2 separate regions of the Homo sapiens genome follow, and region 1 is linked to region 2. Evidence: fine-mapped expression QTL. A gene starts in region 2. The other region holds a variant in brackets. All regions are shown on one strand. Distances are between the middles of the regions. Region 1 has its middle 34 kb from the start of FGD3. Region 2 holds the start of ZNF484 (zinc finger protein 484).

The links. PIP is the estimated chance that this variant, and not a neighbour inherited with it, causes the effect.
Region 1: its variant is the best candidate, but not a certain one, in a credible set for the expression of ZNF484 in blood mononuclear cells (TOPMed, PIP 0.79).

The regions. Positions count from the first base shown.
Region 1 is chr9:92,912,218-92,915,128 of GRCh38, forward strand. It overlaps the pseudogene ALOX15P2. Among named protein-coding and RNA genes, the nearest start is that of FGD3, 34 kb to the right of the region's middle. RefSeq lists an enhancer at 222-723. The variant C/A (reference allele first, on the strand shown) is at 1,237.
Region 2 is chr9:92,876,479-92,879,389 of GRCh38, forward strand. ZNF484 (zinc finger protein 484) reads right to left here and starts at 1,560. Exons shown (of 5, transcript NM_031486.4): 1 at 1,412-1,560. RefSeq lists enhancers at 1,315-1,850, 1,364-1,803.

The DNA of each region.
Region 1 (2,911 bases), 36 kb after region 2:
TCACAGCGCAGGATTAAGTGTGCAACAATAGAAGTGTGCACAAAGAGAAAAGTGGTAGAAAGGAAAGCTGACCAGCTCTGGTGAGGTGACAGGGGTGGAATAACCAGGAAAGACTTAGCTGAAAAACTGGAATCAGGGTTTAGAAGGATGAATAGGCTTACCCAGGAGCAGGTTCTTTGAGGGAAAGACGCGTGGGTTCCAGGGAACACATGGCTCCAGCCCAAAGTGAAGCAGCAGAAGATGCCCTGGTGCAGTGGGATGAGGGGCAAGGAGGTCTGGTCGGGTTAGCAAGGGCATTGAATGCCCCCAAATTTGGATTTTTATTCCGCAGGCAATAGGGAGGCAGAGGCGTTTACATTCAAAAGGAATGAATCCCAGAGCCTGGCACAGGGAAGGCAAGTAAGCAAAGTTGGTCCAATGAATTCAGTGGCCTTAATGTGTCTTCCTCAAATGTCACTGAAGACTGGGTCTCCTCTCCCACTTCACCCCCTCCTGTAGCCCAACTTGTGAGACGCGCGCGCACACGCGCACGTTTAGATGGAGGGGGATTTCCTAGCCATCCAGGCTTGCCTGAAACTCCATCTTACACTGGTGCATAACTCCTGCCCCCACCTCACCTGCCTCCTGTACGAGGCGTTGATTCCTTCTTCCTGCGTATTTTCTGTCCAAATCCTTTTCTGCTTCTCCCACCAATCAAAGTAATGGTTTCCACTCCCTGCTTCCGCCGGGACTCCTTTTTGGCATGGGGCTGAGTTCTGCTCCTTGGAGCTCCAGCGGGTAGCTCCTGGAAGCCCCAGCGGGTAGCCAGGCGGAGTTGGTTGGAGACCTGCCACCCACTTTCTGACCCCAAGCGAATTCTGAGAGGGCAGGGTCTCAGGCTCAGCGAGTTAGCTCGTCCACCCTTCTTCCCCACCAGAAGGAGCGAAACGTCTTTGAGCAAGATTGGTCTCTACTGCGTCCGGGTGTCCACCGGGGCCTCACCCTGTGCCAGCTCCAACAACTAGGTGCAGCTGTGGCCCCACGGTGGCTGAGCCTCCTCTGTCTCCCGCGGGAAGTAGAATTCAAGGTTCAAGTACCGGAGCACCTGGGGCCGCTGCTGTTTGGGAAACTGCGCAAACGGCATCTCCTTCTGGACGCCTCCTGGTTCTGCAACTGGATCTCCGTGCAGGGCCCCGGATCCGGTGAGGAAGTGAAGTTCCCTTGTTACCTCTGGGTGGAGGGCAACGGCGTCCTGAG[C/A]GTACCGGAAGGCACTGGTGAGAGCGGGGCTGAAAGCGTGAAAGTGTGAAGAGGCGTCTGGAGTGCAAGAGAAGCTGGGGTGCATGCGGATGTGGAGGATGGGGGTGCTGGAACCTGGAGCGCAGGGGTCTTTGGAGGTTGTTGAAGAAGCGGTTGCGGGAGCTGGCACAGAGTGGCGTGGAGGCTGGGGGTGGGGCGTGGTGCCGAAGGGGCAGGGGCCACACAGAAGGACAGGGTGATGAAGCTCTCTTGGCAGGGACGAGAAGAGGCTCTCAGAAAAAGCCATTGCCCAATCCCTCCTCTCTACTGCACTCTACTCTAGGCTGCACTGTGGCCGAGGACTCTCAAGGCCTGTTCAAGAAACACAGGGAAGGCCGGGCGCGGTGGCTCACAACTGTAATCCCAGCACTTTGGGAGGCCCAGACGAGCGGATCAAAAGGTCAGGAGATCGAGACCATCTTGGCTAACACAGTGAAACCCCGTCTCTACTAAAAATACAAAAAAATTAGCCGGGTGCGGTGGCGGGCACCTGTAGTCCCAGCTACTTGGGAGGCTGAGGCAGGAGAATGGTGTGAACCCAGGAGGCAGAGCTTGCAGTGAGCCGAGATCGTGCCACTGCACCCTAGCCTGGGCGACTGAGCAAGACTCCATCTCAAAAAAAAAAAAAGAAAAGAAAAGAAAATAAAGAAAGAAACACAGGGAAGAGGAGCTGGAAGAGAGAAGGAAGCTGTACCGGTGACCCCCTACTCCCCAGACCCCATGTGAACTGCTGCTTCCAGCACCCGTGTCTGATTTCATTCTTCCCCACTGGTGGGGAAACTGGAAGGATGGGTTAATTCTGAATGTGGCTGGGGCCAAACTATGTGATCTCCTGTGCATGAGCGATTTCTGGAAGACAAGAGAGTTGACTTTGAGGCTTTGCTGGCCAATGGGTGACAGCAAGGGGAGGCTGGGTGGGAGGGGGGTGCTCTGGTCTAGTGGAAGCCAAGGGGCTTATAGGCTGCACTGTGCTGGATCAGCCCAAGATAGGTGCCTGTGGTTGTAATGTTGGAGTCTCAAAATATGCTCAAACCCTTTGCCCCAACCTTCCTTGAAGCCTGGCCGACCTCGCTATCAAAGACTCTAAATGTTCTGACTTGTTGGAACAATCTGGATGACTTCAACCGGATTTTCTAGTGTGGCCAGGGCAAGCTAGCTGATCAGACCCCCTACCCCAATACTCCTCCCAGGACTCTTACTCCAGCTCCCACCCAATCCAGGGGAATTGAAAGAACCAGGGTGGGGAGACCAGAGACTTGGGTCCCTCTGGTGGGCTAGAGTCAAGTGGGCATGGTTGGTGGGGGTTGGAAGGACCAAGAACTCAGATCCCACAACTTGCTCAACAACTGCCTTCCCCAGAGAATGTGTGGGACTTCTGAAAGGAGGATGCCTTATTTGGGTACCAGTTTCTTAATGGTGCCAACCCCATGGGGCTGAGGCTCTCCATTCACCTTCCTACCCACCTCGTGTTCCCTCCAGGGATGGAGGAACTGCAGGCCCAGCTGGAGAAGGAGCTGGAGGTATGGACATCAGAGCCCCAGGGAGGCCCAACAGTGAAATGAGTTGGGCTAGCCTCACCGGTACTGCTGCGGGACCCACTGTGGGCCTGGCTTGCTGCCAGTCAACAAGGAGGGAT
Region 2 (2,911 bases):
CAGAGACAAATAGGATACAAAATAAAGCTCTGGGCAAAGACATCATCCAAATGCAATGAAAGTAAAAACAAGGGTGGCAATGTGAGTATCAACGTGGAATTCGATGTTAAAAAGTGTTTTTCTTGGAATTCGATGTTAAAAAGTGTTTTTCTTTTTTCTTTTTGGTTGAAAAAAGGGATCCTATAATAATACCACTTAATACATGAAAAAGGATAAAAAATGCACTAACCATTAAGTGTATGTATGCCCATCCCTCAGATGCACAAATAAAATTAGCAAAAAAGCACATATAACTGCAAAATGAACTATTAAAAGTGATTTTTATTGTATCTCCTCCAGAATATGAAACAAGTAGATCAAAATTAGGAAAGATAAAGATTTGAAAAATACCAACAAGCAAGACTTAATTAAAGAGAATTTTGGTCCATACAACAAAATATAATTTTTCTTTTATATCTGTTGAACAAAGTTCATTGAGTAACTTGGCTTCAAGGAAAATCTTGATAAATTGTTAAAAGTTGAGACTTGATAGTCTGCATTTTCTGACAATACAATAAAATAAAAAACAGCTAAAACATACTTTAATAATTTGGGAATGAATAAACTCTCCTAAATAACTAAGATTCAAAGGGAAACATCAAAATGAACTTATGCATTTCATAAAGATGTACTTAAAGAAACTTTACAACCCTAAATGTATCCCGCATAAAACTTAAGAAAATAAGGGAAAGAACAACAAATTACATCAAAAAGTGGGAAAAAGAGAAAGTACCTAAAAAGAAAAAGAGAAAAAAATTAATATTAAAAGAGTAGGGAGTATTTTATTGGACATTTCAAAATGTCCAATGAAACAGATAAACCTTTCAGACGCTTGATTCTTTTTAAATAGAGAAAGAATGAATGATATATAAATATAATAACCGTAATGATAAAGGAGCTACTAGTCTGGATATGAAAGAGAACAAAATGGAAATGGAAACATGCAATTCTATGTAATATATTCTTTAAATCTTTAGCAAAATATATCATTATAATGAAACAGAAACGAAAATATAAACAGATCGGTACGTATAAAAGAGAGGAAACTAATTAAGATGTGCATCATTCACACTCCTCAGATCCCTCCTTAGTTCCCATAGTCATCCTCCCCCACAACCCCACAGTCCGCCCTCACTCCGCCCTCAGATCCACCACCAGACAGAGACCCCCAGTCCGTCCTCACTCCGCCTGCAGATCCACCACCAGAGACCCCTCAGTGCCCCCTCACTCCTCCCTCAGATCCACCATCAGAGATCGCTCCGACTTCCACTATTCCATCCACTGACCGACCCCATCACTGACCGGAAGGCTCAGGACAGACATCAGAGATTCTTCTTGCTCAGTCCACAGATGCTGCCATCCCTCTACTCACCTGCCCCTCACCCACGTCCTCTCAGGACAGTGGTCATTTGCCTCGGGAGGTGACTATAGTCGCAAGAACCAGAACAGGACCCACTTCCTTTTTCTCAATGCCTCCCAGGCCTAGAGGTACTTCTTACAGCGCTGCCTGGGTTTGCGCATGCTCAGCAGTCTTCATGGCCTGAAGGTTGCCAGTAATCAACATGGCGCTTTGCCAAACACGCTCCCGTTTCAGCGGCTTAGGCTGGGCGCCAGTATGGCGGCGCCCATGTAGACACTCTGGCCTGTGGGCGGCCATGTTGAGGTCATGTAGAGACTGAGAGGCTGAGGGTTGTCCAAAGGAAAGGAAGCAAGCAGAGGTGTGTCCCATCATACTAAGCCAGGACACAATCAAAGCCTATCACCTCAGGTTACAGTCTTTCTCCAATGCTTCTGTGGACACAACAACACTGTTAATCAACAGGAACTAATCAGCATTTATGTAACACCGCAAACGCAGCCGAATACACATTTTATTCGTGTCGATGGGACATTTAGCAAGATATGAAGTAACCTGGGTCATAAAACAAATCTCAGCAAATTTGAAACAACTGAAATCATACAGTTTGTTCTCTGAACACAATAGAATTAAACTAGAAATCAATAACAGGAAGATAAAAGGAAAATCTCCAAACACGTGAAAACACATGCTAAATAATCCATTGTTCAGAGAGAAAGTCTCAAATTTTTAAAATACATTGAAATGAATGAAAGTGAAAGTGAATGAATTTTTAAAATACATTGAAATGAATGACAGTGAAACACAACATATCAAAATTTGTGGGATGTGGCTAAATCAGTGGTGAGAGAAAAATGTATATACCACTAAGGGCTTACATTAGAAAAGAAAAAAATTTCAAAGCAATAACCAAGCTCCCTCACATACTAGAAAAAGAAGAGCAAAATAAACCGAAGGCAAGTGAAAGAAAGGAAATAATAAGGATAAGAAGATGACTCAATAAAATGTAAAAAGAAAAATAGAGAAAAACCGATTAAACAAAAGCTGGTTCTGTAAATGTTAATAAAATTGACAAATCTGTAGAGGAGACACAAAATATCAATATCCAGAATGAAACAGGAGATACCACTGTAGACCATGACGAAATCAAAAGAATAAAGAGAATACTACAAACAACTCTACAAACATAAATTTCACAACATAGATGAAATGCACTAATTCTTGAAAAAGCACAAATTCTCTCTTACATGAAATAGTTATGTTGAATAGCCCTAGAACTGAAGTCATAATTTGAAATATCTGAAAAAGAAATCTTAAGGCCTGGATAGCTAGATCAGAGAATTCTAACAAACATTTAAAGGTTAACACGAATTATATCCAGTCTCTTCCAGAATAAAAAAAGAATAGAAAGAAGACAATAGAAAGATATTCCAACTCATGAGGCCAGTGTTACTCTGATATCAGAGCTAAAGACAGAAGAAGAAGAAATCAGTATTCTTCATGAATATAGATGGA